Homo sapiens: one gene and its partner. The protein of the gene in region 1 binds, or shares a complex with, the protein of each later gene. Each region holds a gene or a part of one and is shown in the gene's direction. Other genes may lie near its edges.

Evidence for each region.
Region 2: the proteins of NAA20 (region 1) and SNCA are in contact, whole or in part, in a cryo-EM structure (PDB 7STX), measured with the Homo sapiens proteins. Residues at the interface, in NP_057184.1 of Homo sapiens: Leu23, Thr24, Glu25, Tyr27, His73, Val74, Thr75, Ala76, Leu77, Ser78, Leu110 (codon at 5,459), Phe111 (codon at 5,462), Tyr137 (codon at 5,540), Tyr138 (codon at 5,543), Ser139 (codon at 5,546), Ala140 (codon at 5,549); in NP_000336.1 of Homo sapiens: Met1, Asp2, Val3, Phe4.

The regions. Positions count from the first base shown.
Region 1 is NC_000020.11:20,027,072-20,034,155, forward strand, and holds the end of NAA20 (N-alpha-acetyltransferase 20), read left to right. Parts: intron 1-5,436; coding exon 5,437-5,582; intron 5,583-6,030; coding exon 6,031-6,116; 3' UTR 6,117-6,584; downstream 6,585-7,084. UniProt on the Homo sapiens protein: Catalytic subunit of the NatB complex which catalyzes acetylation of the N-terminal methionine residues of peptides beginning with Met-Asp, Met-Glu, Met-Asn and Met-Gln. Proteins with cell cycle functions are overrepresented in the pool of NatB substrates.
Region 2 is NC_000004.12:89,729,045-89,736,334, reverse strand, and holds part of SNCA (alpha-synuclein), read left to right. Parts: intron 1-7,057; coding exon 7,058-7,141; intron 7,142-7,290. UniProt on the Homo sapiens protein: Neuronal protein that plays several roles in synaptic activity such as regulation of synaptic vesicle trafficking and subsequent neurotransmitter release.

The DNA.
Region 1 (7,084 bases):
AGTGATATTGTTTCTATTTTGCCATTGAGGAAATTAAGGCAAAGTGTTGTAGTGACCCGCTATAGGCCTATAAGCTGAGGAATTGGTGCAATTCAGTTCCAAAGGCTAGCTCTCGAGGTTTCTCTTAGTGTTCCTGCCACAGTGGCACACATTCCTAAAATCTGTTACCATTGCTTTGGCATCTGAATAAATTTTTAGCAGTGCTCCTCGGCCAAAAGAAAATAGTTCAGTCTTAAGCAGTTATATTCTAACTGTTTAATAAGTATTTATAGCCTAACAGCTAATAGCCATTTAGAAAAAAAATAAATTGAAAGAAGAAATATTTTCATTTCATTCTTAAATAACTGTGGCTAGCTACCAATGAGAGGTGTGCACCTGTTGGACATTAAATGACTTGGCAGAACCACTTGCATTCCTGTTTCATATTGATTTTCATCTAGTATTTTTTTTTAATCACAGCAACTGCCAGAAACTCAGCTTCATAGAAATATTATGTCATTAAGAGGAATGTAGCATGATCTTACGTTGAATTTGTGAACTACTTCAAACTAGTTTGCCAATATCTGACATGTAAGGTTTTGCTGTTTTCCCTGAACATTCGAAATATCCTTTGGTGGCTGTATGAGTTTGGGACACCTTAGGGCACCTGAGTGCACAGTTTGCGAACTGCCAGCATGGCATTTTTTTTTTTTTTTTTAAGGGACGTGTTGTATATATCAAACCTCTTCATTACTGGAGATAAAAGAAATACAATAAATAGAAGAGAAGGCCCCTCCTCGTATCTTCATTCTAGAAGAGAGATGTTTGTAGTAGCTTCACCTGTTGTCAAGCTGCCATTTCTTTCTCCACTGTAATTTCCTAAAAGTGTGGTAGGAAAGAGAATAGTTGCTGAGAAGGGTTCTTGAGCTTAATTTCTACTTAATTATTAGATTTAATAAAGGCAAGTTTTAAAGAAGTATCTGTGGCCTGACAAAGACTTCAAGCCAAATTAGAGGCAAAGGAGCTCAAACTCATTCAGAGAAGAAATTGTGTTAGCTGAAAAAGAAGTCGGTGCTAATCTTTAAGATTTTTTAAAGTTCTCTCTAGACCAAACAAAGAAGGGAAGAAAATTTTAGCATGATTATAGTTTACACACATTTATTAATGGCATTATGTTGAAAAAAAGTATTTGGCATTATTGTATAGTGAACAGGGAGTTAGAAAGTGGGTTGTTCAATGAGAACACATGGACACAGGGAGGGGAACATCACACACCAGGGCCTGTCGGGGGTGGGGGTCTAAGGGAGGGATAGAATTAGGATAAATACCTAATGTAGATGACGAGTTGATGGGTGCAGCAAACCACCATGGCACGCGTATACCTATGTAACAAACCTGCACGTTCTGCACATGTATCCCAGAACTTAAAGTATAATAATAATAAAAAAAAGCAGGTCGTAACTAGCTATGACCTTGCACATATAATTTAGGGTATTTGTATGATAGATTCTCCCTCTGAGTAGAAGACCACTAAGCTCTCTTCCCTTCCAGTTTCTAAGCCTTCATTATTTTAGACTAGTTGCTAAGATTTAAGTAATCTTCATTTGTAGGCATATATATACATATACACATACATGATACATATACATATGCTTATATACACTATATACATGTATACATAGTGCATACAATGTATACATTAAAAATAGAAACCAAACAAGTAGAGGAGAAGAAAAATTGAATGATAGAAGTCAACTCCAAAGAAGAGAAAAAGGAAATTAAACCAGCAAAACAAAATGCATGAAATAAAATGGTAGCCCAGAATCCAAATATTGTCAGTAATTACAACAGTAAACGTTAATGGACTTAGGACTTTATTTATTTATTATTAGTTTTGGAGATGGGGTCTTGCTCTGTTGCTCAGGCTGGAGTGCAGTGGCGTGATCTCAGCTCACTGCAACGTCTGCCTCCCAGGCTCAAATGATTTTCCTCTCTCACCCTCTGAGTAGCTGGGATTACAGGCGCCCACCACCATGCACGGCCAGCTATGATGACTCTATTTAAAAGACAAAGGCTGTCTGTATTGTTTACAGGAAATATGTGTAAAATATATTAAAATATTTTTAATACAGAAAGATTGAAAGTAAATTTTTAAATTACCTTGCAAATTCTAACCAAAAGAAAGTTAGAATACTTATTAATAATAGTTATAGTTGAATAATTATTACCAGCATAAAAAAGGGTCACTGCATATTGATAAAATATTTAATCAAGGAAGTAACAAGTCTGGGAGTGGTGGCTCATGACTGTAATCCCAGCACCTTGGGAGGCCGAGACAGGTGGATCACTTGAGGTCAGGAGTTCCAGACCAGTCTGGCCAACATGGTGAAATCCCGTCTCGACTAAAAATACAAAAATTAGCCGGGTGTGGTAGCACGTGACTGTAATCCCAGCTACTCGGGAGGCTGAGGCAGGAGAATTGCTTGAACCTGGGAGGCGAAGATTACAGTGAGCCAAGATCACGCCATTGCACTCCAGCCTGTGCAACAGAGCGAGACTCCATCTCAAAAAAAAAAAAAAAAATAGCGATTTAAAATGGTATATACCAAGTGACATCATTTCAAAGTAAAAATGCACAAATTGACAAAACTACAAGGAGAAATAGACAAATTATTATTATAATGGGAGATTTAGACATGCTTTTTTCTAATTGATAGAACAATGAGATAGAAATTTGTCAAGCCTATAGAACAAGAATCAGCAATTTTCTTCTGGGTCAGATAGTAAATATTCAGGCATTACAGGCCACCTAAAGTCTTGGTTACATAGTTTTTTGTTTTGTTTTGTTTTGTTTTGTTTTTAACAACCATTGCAAAAACCATTCTTAGCTTGAAGGCAGTAGCAAAATAGGTTATAAGCCAACCCCTGCCCTAAAGAATTTCAATCAGTAGCCCAAAATCTTTTCACGAAGAAAGCTGTGGCTTCTCTGGCCAATTTTACTAAACATTTAAGAAATAATGACTGAAAGGTCACTTTTACACAAACTATTTTGCACAAGCCAAAAAAGGGAACATTCCTCAACTTATTTTTTAAGGCCAGGATAACCTTGATAACAATACTTGGCAAAATATGGGAAAGGAAAATTCGAGGAACATCTCACTCAGATGCAAAATCTCGGAAAAATAATTAGCAAAGTGGATTTGGCACTACATAAATAGGATGACACATCAGGAACAAGGTGGTTTCAACTTTACACTAAAGGAGAACACTGGTTATTTTAGAAAGTGCAGCAAACTTGATAAAATCCAATATTCCTTCCTGATAAAAACTGTTAGCAAACTGGGAAATAGAAAGGGGGAACTTCCTTAACCTGAAAAATATCTACAAGAAATTTGTAGTAAATATATTTAGTAGTGATACACTGAATGCTTTCCTTTTGAAATTAGGGACAAGTTAGTCCCGCTTCAGTAATTTACTAGAAATTATAGCACAGGAAAGCAGGAAAAAATAAACGATAGGAGGATTGAGAGGAAACAAAACTTATTTTGCACAGATATGATTATATAAATATAAAATCCATAAGAATATAAATATTTAGAATTAATAAAAGGCAAAGTTGTTGGATATAAAGTCAGTATAAAAATCAATTGTATTTACATATGAGAGGAAACAAAACTTACTTATTTTGCACAGATATGATTATACAAATATAAAATCCACAAGAATCTAGAAATAAATGTTTAGAATTAATAAAAGGTAGGCAAGGTTGTTGGATAGAAAGTCAGTATAAAAATCAATTGTATTTATATATATATAAACAGTAAAATTTAGAAAAAGATGCCATAGCATGAAAAAACATTAAGTACTTAAGAATCTAGCAAGTGCTATGCAAGACCTCTCTGACATTTAAAAAACTTTTTTGAGAGATATTAAAGTAGCCCTGATAAGTGGAGCGATAAACTATCACTGGATTAGAGGATACAGTAAACAGGTAATCGACCGCAGTTCCAATGTAATTGCAGTCAAAATCCCAAGCATTTTTTATAGTACTTGTTAAGCTGACTCTGAAACATACAGAGGAACAGAAAGAGCAAAAAAGAGACAAGATATTCTTGAACAACAACAAAAATGGGTGATGTGCCCCTCCAGGTATCAGACTGTAAAGAGTGAGACTATATCTTAGTGCTGTAGTTATCTAGACCAGTGTTACAGAATTTGAGAAACAGACCCAAGAATATATGGACTTTAACATACCACAGAAGAGGCATTGCACATCAATAGTATGAAGATAGACTTTTCAGTAAAGGTGGTTGGACAATTGGATGTCCCTATGGGAAAAAAAAATTTCCCAGATTACCATTATTCCATACACAAATCAACTCCAGATTTATTAAAAACCTAGATGTGAAACCAAAACTAAGAAGTCTTTTGAATATAATATGGCAGAGTGTCTCTGTGGCCTCAGTGTAGAACTTTTTAAAAAGGCCATAAAAAGGCTAAGGAAAGGATTCATATATTCAGCTTCACTGAAGTGAAGTAACTTTTTATCAAAAGATAACATAAGGATAATGACAAGACAAACCACAAATTGGAAAAAGATACTTGCAGACATTACACAGTATTGAATATTCACAATACATAGAGAACTGTAGCGGGGGAAAAATTGTATGAAAGATTTAAGTACTATACAGAAGGAGAAATCTAAATGGCCAACCAACAGAAATATATTCAGCATTGTTAGTAATTGGAAATACAAATTAAAATCTGAGATATAGTTACACTGTAAGATTGGCAAAAATAAAAACATGTGATGCACCAAGCCTTGTTGCTGTGGAATGGAGGCTTACTCACTTCTGTGCAAGAGTAAGTTGGTACAAGCCAGTTGGAAAAACAGTTTGGTATTAACTAATGAAGATGTGCCCTGTGACACAACAGTGAGACTCCTAGCTATAGACCTTACGTGAGACACTCAACAGAAGTATTCACAGGAGCATCGTTTGTATAGTAAAAGCCAGAAACGTATCAACAGGACCGTGAATGACTTGTGCACAAGCCCAGCCACTCTTGAAGCTGACTCTTACAATGTTAGTCGACTGAGAGAAGCAAAAGACAAAAGAATATATGATTCCATGTATATAAACTTCATAAACAGGAGAAACTGTAATAGGTGGTGAATTTGTAGAACAAATGCCTTGAGTTTATCTTTTAAGAAAACGTGTTGCTTTTGAAATACTAGCATGCAAACATAAAGTCATGTTCTTACACTGCAAAGTAATTGTCATAAATCCTAAGTAATACAAATTTCTATTACCATGTAATCAGCTACAAGGTCCTATTACTACCATTCTGAGTAGTAGTCAAAGCAAGGTAAAAACACGTTTTAAAAAAAATATGTATCTATTACTTTCTAGGGTTTCTCACATTCTAACATTTTCCTTTTTTGTTTTTCTTTTAAAGAAAGGGTGGATTTTTTGTGGATCTCTTTGTAAGAGTATCTAACCAAGTTGCAGTTAACATGTACAAGCAGTTGGGCTACAGTGTATATAGGACGGTCATAGAGTACTATTCGGCCAGCAACGGGGAGCCTGATGAGGACGCTTATGGTAAGCTCCCTTCCATGGCAGTATCCCCAAGAAGTCGAAACAGTTACATTCTTTCTACAGATTGTAGTATTTGATTATTTTAATAAATGTAGAATATTTGACTTTAAAATTTAAATTTCCCTCAACCTACCTTTATCAACCTATTAGTAGTAGTAATTAACTTACCTATTAACTAACCAATGGTTAATTTCTGTACCTTACTGTTTCACTCTGTTACATACATATTATTTTGCTAACAAGAAAACGTGTATTGTGAGCTGAATACTGGGTGAGGTCTGGTTAGCATCTGGTACACTTGGCAATTGGGAGACATTTATAAATACATTTTGCTTAGAATATGGTGAAGTGGGGGTAGGGATAAAACCTCTTATGGGAACTTTACCTATACACTTTACATTTGATATAATACATTTTTTGGGTGTTTATATTAAACTTTGCTTCTTTACAGATATGAGGAAAGCACTTTCCAGGGATACTGAGAAGAAATCCATCATACCATTACCTCATCCTGTGAGGCCTGAAGACATTGAATAACCCTGGGCAGTGGTTCTTAGGCAGATACTCTAGATGCTTTATGGACAATATTATTTTCATTGGATGATTCTGGAGCTCTATTAGGAGAAAAGTAATCATTTTAGGTCTTAAAGACTTCAAGAAAATACAGGTTATCAATTTATTTTAAATCTCATTGTTTCCAGTTAGCAATATCATACCTATTAAAGCTGTTCATTGTAACAAAATTCAATCAAAAAGGCAGCTAGGTCAGAAGGAAACATACCACTCTCATGGTTCATAGTATTCACTGTATGTATGCTAGGGAAAAGACTTGCTCCAGTCTCCTCCTCAGTTCTGTGCCTGAGAACCACTGCTGCATATATTTGTTTTTAAATTTTGTATTGAACTGTTAATTGAAGCTTTAAAAGCATATATGAAATGTATAAATCTAAGATGTATAATACATTATTGACTCTATGAATGTTTTCTGAAGTTTGTTAGTCATTTGTAAAACTAAATCAGATTGTAATCCCAGTACTTTGGGAGGCCAAGGCAGGCTGATTGCTTGAGGTCAGGAGTTTGAGACCAGCCTGGCCAAAATCTATACTAAAAAAAATACAAAAATTAGCTGGGCATCCCAGCTATGCAGAAGCTGAAGCACAAGAATTGCTTGAACCCTGGAGGTGGAGGTTGCAGTGAGCTGAGATCGTCCCACTGCACTCCAGCCCGGGCAACAGAGTAAGACCCTGCCTCAAGAAAAAAAAAAAAAAAAAAAATCAGGATTGTGAAAGGTCATCATCATTTAAGATACGTTTAATTAAATTGTGACTTCCATACGTAGTATTTTAAAAATGCACACTTGAAGCAATCACTGTCCAGCATACTTAAGAAGCTCCCTTCTTATCGTGTAGTAAATTCTTCCCAGTCACCTGCGTTCATACCATTATACTGTTTGTTTGTTAGTCCTAGATCTTTTCTCCTCTTCACAATGCTTTGCTTAAATCCTG
Region 2 (7,290 bases), on another chromosome or scaffold:
TGCACCAAGTCCTTTGGTCATTTTATTTCTACCTTAGATCTAAGCCATAACTATACTTTCCCAAAAATTAAAGTTTGAATTTTAACTTAACCATATATAATTGGAAAAGGAGGTTGGGTTCGTTAAGTGTAATTTTATCATGCTTTATTATCCTTTGGGCATTGGATACAGCAGAACATGCCAATTTCTATGGCTTCTCATGTGACAGAATATACTTACTAGGATGCAATTAAATACTCCTCAGAGTATGTAAACAATAAATGTAATCATTACATTATTTTTATATTGTTCTTTCTTATGCATAATAGTAAGACTGAAAATATAGTGTTATTTCTGAAATATGCATATTGTTTTGCTTTTGATGATTAAATAACATTGTCCAAAGTTTTAGGTTTTTTGAAATCTTATATTTTTTAACAAAATATCTAGCCTTTCCAAAACAAGACCTCAATAATTCGTTTAAGACCCAGAGTTGTTCCTCTCCACATAGATCTCTTAAAAAGGCAGAGGATTTATGACCTCAAGAGAAATCAGAGTATCCAAAGTTTGCTTTAATTCAATGTTTTAAAAATAAAATTCCTTAGATTTTATCAAAAATTGAGATTAGTTTGATTTTGAATCAGATGCCCTTTGCTCCCCACCCCAAAATGGCATTATGAGCAGACTAGGAATTGATAATAGAAAATTGAACATATGAAATATATCTTTACCTTGCTTTTTAACAAGGTATTCATGTCTATCGCCTTCATTTTTAAGTGCATCAATAAAATACATGGTAATTCTCTTAGTGAAATATACTATCTACACTATGTACACACTCCCCTGTCTGAGGTAGAGAAGTAGAGAATATTCACATTTTTGAAACGTCTATGCTATTTTTATTTAAATACGAGTTCTGGGCTTGATTTCATTTTGGAACACGGGTGTGTGCTTAAGTTGAACCTTTTTTTCCTCTTAAGTCAAAGTTCTTTTTTAGTTTCTTCTTTTATCTTTTTGGCTACTATCTCTCTCCTTCATCCTCCTGGTGTGAGTTGTTGAGTGAAGGTATTAATTCCATTATTTGAGGCTAAGTGACATTGTTCAATAATGCAGCAAAACAATGGTTCTACCCAAAATATCTTCAAGTGTAAAAGCAGTGGGCAAAAGAGAAAGTGCGCTTCTGCTGCTTTGAATGTTTAAGGCTGTGAAAGTTGATCACACAAATTGGGTCATTCTTGTTATACCCAACTAAAACAATCAAGAAGCCTGGGAGGAAAAGCATTCAAGAAACATCACATTGCTCCAAAAGTGTAATTTTCTACAAGTCCGCATGCTGAGGCTGCCTGTTGTAACCTGGGACCAATTTTTTCTGTAACTGCTGAAAAAACTTGCTGCAGCTCTAGGACTAATTTTGCCCACCACTGTCACTCACCAATTGAAGCTTACTAGCTCCCCAGAACCTTTCTAGTGCCAATGAACTTTCTCAAAGAGCAGCGTGTATCATTTCTCTTTTTCAGAACACCTCCAACCTCCTCTTTGTTCTTTGGGTATACCAAAGACCAACCAGCCTTGAATTTCAATTTTTCTTCCCACATAAAAGTTTTAATTTAGAAATGTATCTCTACATTTCTAACTTTGACAAAGCATAGATACCAGATAATTGATGAAACCTTGCTATTTTAACGATCACCATGGATTACTTCCCAGTGTCTTCAGATAACCCTCAACATTTGCCAACATTTGATGGACTTCAAAATGAGCATATCTTTTTTAAAAAAAATTATTCACACTGACAGCAAGTACATTGGTATACTCTATATTAAATTATACCACAGGGTTTACAAACAATTGGTGATGTCGGGCAGTGGTTTCCAAGGAACATACTTAACAAGACACTCACAAGGCCCTACAAACCTGCATTTTTAACAAGGGCCCTAGATGATTCTAGAAGAGTGTGGTTTGGAAAGCAATTTTTGCCTTTATTATGTGTCATTTTAAATATATTTAAAATTAAAGTTATAAGTCATAGAATTGAATAAAGATAATTTCCTTACAGAAAGTATTACTAGGTATCTAAATACAATATGGTTCAAAACAGGAAATTTAAAAAGATTATGTAAATTCTGTAGTTGTATTCCTAAAGACAGTAGCTGAAATTTTTTCCTACTTCTCCTTGTATCACTTCCCTTTTCCTTCACTTTCACTTCCCTGGAATTGTACTTCCCAATAAGCTATTAGCAGTGAAGGAAGCTTCGTCTCATGATCTGTTTTATAGAGCACTTCAGCTGGGACGAGTACGAAATGATAATCAGTTATATCAGCTATTCAACCCTACAGGTTTATTTAAAAAGAACTTGAATAAGCTTTTTAGGGAGAAAGAGGTCAGTCTCAGCCATTTCTGTTTCCTAATATAGCTTTTAAGTCTTTCCTTATTAGCAATGAGGGTCATTCCATTGTAATTTTTTGATAACCATTTTTCTTTCTGTGTGTCAAATGCAGATATAAGATACTGAACTGAGTCTATTTCACTGTTCGTAAAACAATCCCATTTGAAAAAAAAAAGTCTACAGCTATTCCAGGGATAGGGCCTAGTAGAGAGAGAATAAAAGGTATTTTCTTACTATGTCTCTATATCCTACCCTGTAGGTTCTCTTATTAAGCATACAGGCATATACCAAAATCCAGACGTTTTTCTCATTTATTTTATTGCCCTAACATATTCTGGGTTAATATAATATCATAATGAAAATTTGAGAAAAAATTGATTTTTTCAAAAGTGTTTAACATTTGTTATATTGGTAGTTTTTTTTCTTGTTTGTGGTAAAAATAAATAGAAGGTGCACTTCACACCTTCAAGTATGATTATATTTTGAAAACAAGTCATGAATACTCATAAAATGCAAATTTTAATGTTCTTTTTTTGTTACAGCCAAACTATATTAGGCACAGTTGTAAATTGGAGTTGAAATTTAATATTTCTTTATAGATAACAATGTTTTTAGAAATAGGTTTATGAAACAGTAAATATACAGGTATAGGGATAAAATTGTGTCTGATGGTCATATGAAGTGTTTGTTGTTATATTCTCCTTGGAATAGCTGCCAAATATTTTAGTATGCTTAAAATCTACGAATGTGATAGAGTCAACAAATTTAGATCACATATTCAGAAAAACATAGTTAGAGAACTAACTATTGAAATGAGCATACAGCAGTCTTCCTTTATCTACAGGGATACATTCTGAAACCCCCACTAGGACACCTGAAATTGCGGATAGTAGCAAACCCTACATATACTGTTTTTTCCAATGCTTATGTACCTATGAAAAAGTTTAATTTATAAACTAGGCACAGTAAGAGATTAACAACAATAACTAATAACAAAAGAGAACAATTATAATAATATACTGTAATAAAAGTTATGTGGGTATGGTCTCGCTTTCTCTTTCCCTCTCTCTCTGTCTCTAAATATCTTAGTATTTTGGGGTTGCAATTGGTGGTGGGCAACTGAAACCATGGAAAACAAAACCACGGATAAAAGGAGACTACTGTATATACTTTTTAAAACTGATGAAATATTAAACTCATGTTTCTTCTATATCCCACCCATTTCCCCCACCCAAACCTAGATAGATATCTTATTTGATCTGTAAACATTTAATTAATTTGTAAAAGTTAAGAACTTTTTGAAGTAAAACTGCAATATATCATCACACCTAAAGAAATAAACAATAATTCTTAAATATCAAGTCAGTGTTCAAATTTCCCCAACTACCTCATATGTGTTTTCCATTTGCTTATGTAGGGTTCCCAATGAGAATGAAATAAAGTTCTTAGGTTGCAATTGGCTAATGCTCTCTCACTTCTACTTTAAGCGGCAGGTTCCCACTAACTTCTTTTTAGTTGCAATTTACTTATTGAAATTAGACGTATTCTTTGTCTTGTGTAGTTTCTCACAGTGCAAAATTTGCTGATTGTAGCCACTGTTGTAAGCAATGAACATGTTTTTCACCACCTTATATTTGCTGTAAGTTGTCAGTGATAGTTAAATGTTAATCAAATTCAAATTCGGATCACGTAGGGCTTTTCTTTTTTTGTTTTCTTTTTCTATTTATATATTTATTTATTTATTTTGAGACGGAGTCTCACTCCGTCACCAGGCTGGAGTGCAATGGTGTGATCTGGGCTCACTGCAATCTCCACCTCCCGGGTTCAAGTGATTCCCCTGGCTCAGTCTCCCGAGTAGCTGGGACTATAGGAGAACCACCACGCCCGGCTAACTTTTTGTATTTTAGTAGAGATGGGGTTTCACCATGTTGGCCAGGATGCTATAGATCTCCTGACCTCACCGATCATGTAGGACTTCAATTGTCGAACAAACGAACCTTTAATAGCAGTTACACCATTAGGATGACCTGATCCAACATCGAGGTCGTAAACCCTATTGTCGATTTGGACTCTAGAATAGGATTGTGCTGTCATCCCTAGTGTAGCTTGTTCCCACTTGATGAAGTTATTGGATCAGTGAACAATAGCCCACTTAAACTAGTACAGTCTTAGTTTAAGATGGTGATGTGTATGTACTTCCATCAGAGGGCACATAATACAGTAAATCCTCACTTAACTTCATCAATAGTTTCTGGAAACTGTGACTTGAAGCAAAACAACATATAACAAAACCAGTTTTACCATTGGCTAATTGATATAAGCAAGAATTAAGTCCTATGGCAAATTTCTGGACACAAAAACACCATCAAACTCCTAAATAAAGATAAATCACTTCTGACATTAAACATTGAAATTAATGTGAGCTATATATACGTTTAAGAAAGATTAATACAAACAAGTCAAATAACTTACCTAATTATTTCGGTGGAGGCCGCAGGTGGTTGGAGCCTATCCTGGCAGCTCAGGGAGCAATATGGGAACCCACCCCGGACAGGACGCTGTTCCATTACTGCAGGGTGCTCTTGTACACACCCACTCACCCAGGCTGGAACCATGCAGACACACACACTCACCTAACCTACACATCTGTGTACATCCTTCAAAGTTCAGCCAAATAACATATAAACAAATCCAGTAATATCCATCAGTCTTAGTTCCGTCATAACAACTCCTTTTTGATCATCAAACAACAAACAGGGTAGGTCTGCCATATTTACTTGTCTGGTCCATATCAAAATTTTCTAACAAATTATATTAGAAAATCAAATCTCTGTCAGTTTCAAAATCATGGAAAAAAATTTGCCTTATTTCCCTTATACTTGGATATCCTAACAGTAATCTAAATATTAATGAGAAAGTTAATGATGTCGTTTCCTTCTCCCTGTTGTAAAGAAGGTTTTGCTGTCCCGTTTGATCACTAAGACTAATTGACACTCAGAAAAAGCATAGGAAACTTCTCAGCATCACAAAAGCTCTGTCATCTAGAGAAGCTAGGACTTGAGCTCAAGTCCTGTGACATGGAAGGCCTTGTGCCTAGCCATCCTGCAGCAGAGGCGTATCTACCAAGAAGTGAAACACTACGAAAACAGTATGTTTACTCCACATTTTAAAGTGAGGTAGTTTGGGGTGGTTCATATTTTATTTAATTTATATATTATTTGGATTTTTTTTAGTTTATAAAAAGGGCATTGGCAAGGGCAGAATGATCTGTAAGCTTCTCTGCCCACCTACCATAAGCATGATCTTTAGTGTGACCTTTTCTTACTGTTAGCCATTTTCTTATACTTCTGCGTCCCTGTCAGTCACTTCCATGTGAAGACATGGGGAAGCTTTTTTACATCAGACATGTTGTTGAAAATCAGCCGCGTTGGCTGAGGGATTATTTGATCTCTTTCTCCAAGTCCCTTTAGGCTCACATTGCCTCTCTGTTCTTTGAATTTTCACTTACCTTTATCTTCTTATAATTACTTTGCTGAAATAAATGCAAAGCAACAAAAGGTATTTAGTGAAGAATACCAACAAAGCCATGACCATTTCAGGCTGAGTTTTGTAGTATTCTTTGTCTAGGAAGAGATACCTAGAAAAATTTTCTGACCATGTATTTGATTATTTTCCTTCAATATGTATAGTCTCAGTCTTCAAATTTCAGAAAAGAATTTGTTTCTTCATTGTCATTTAAAATTAATGTGTTAAATATGTATGCTTTTACATTATAAGTGGTTATAAAAGTTAAACACTTAGAAAAAAAGTCAAAATAACATACATACTATCCAACAAAATAACTTTCATATTTTATTGTGTTTTCTTCCAAACTTTTTACCTTTGCGTCTGAATTCTGTGTAGGTTGTATCTATAATATAGACAACACTTTATAGCCTGCTAAATATTATACCATAAATAGGTAGTTGTTACATAATTCTCAGGTAATAGTAATACAGGTCTTTATCATAATCTACTGAGTAGTTGAATGATAATTTTTTTTAAGACAAGGTCTCCCTCTGTCACCCAGGCTAGAATGCAGTGGCATGCACATGGCTCACTGTAGCCTCTACCTCCCAGGCTCAAGTGATCCTCCTGCCTCAGCCTCCCAAGTGGCTGGGACTGTAGGCATGTGCCACCATGCCCAGCTATTTATTTGTATTTTTAGTAGAGATGGGGTTTCATTGTAACAGCCCAGGCTGGTCTTGAACTCCTGGACTCAAATGATCCACCTGCCTCAGCCTCCCAAAGTGCTGAAATCACAGGAGTGAACCACTGCACCCAGCAATAATTTTTTAACTCTTCATTATTCATTGAACATTTAGTTAACAATTCTAAAAATTTTGTTTCCTGCTGTCATTGATCTTGTGAAAAATATCTTTGGACTATAGCTGTGGATTATTTCCTAAATAGTAAATTACTTGAGCAAAAAGTTTACATACTTTGAGGGTTGATAACCCATGTTGCCGCAATGTTTCCCCGGAGGCATTGTGGAGTTTAGAATGCCAGTAGTAATATTAAGGTGTGCCATTTTCAAGATCCGTGGCCAACATCCCTATATGTAAGATTTTTCCAAAACATGGTTCTGATTTTTAAAAGTGAAAAATGCTACTTCATCATGTTCTTTTTGTGCTTCTTACTTTAAATATTAGAATGAAGAAGGAGCCCCACAGGAAGGAATTCTGGAAGATATGCCTGTGGATCCTGACAATGAGGCTTATGAAATGCCTTCTGAGGTAGGAGTCCAAGCTGAATCTTTCTAACAAGACAGTACCAAAAACCTGTCATTGTCACATTTCTCTTTCATTAGTGCTTAGTGAGAATCATTTGCTCTCTACATGCTCATTACGTGGACAACTTGCAAGTTAAGAATAGTTTTTACATT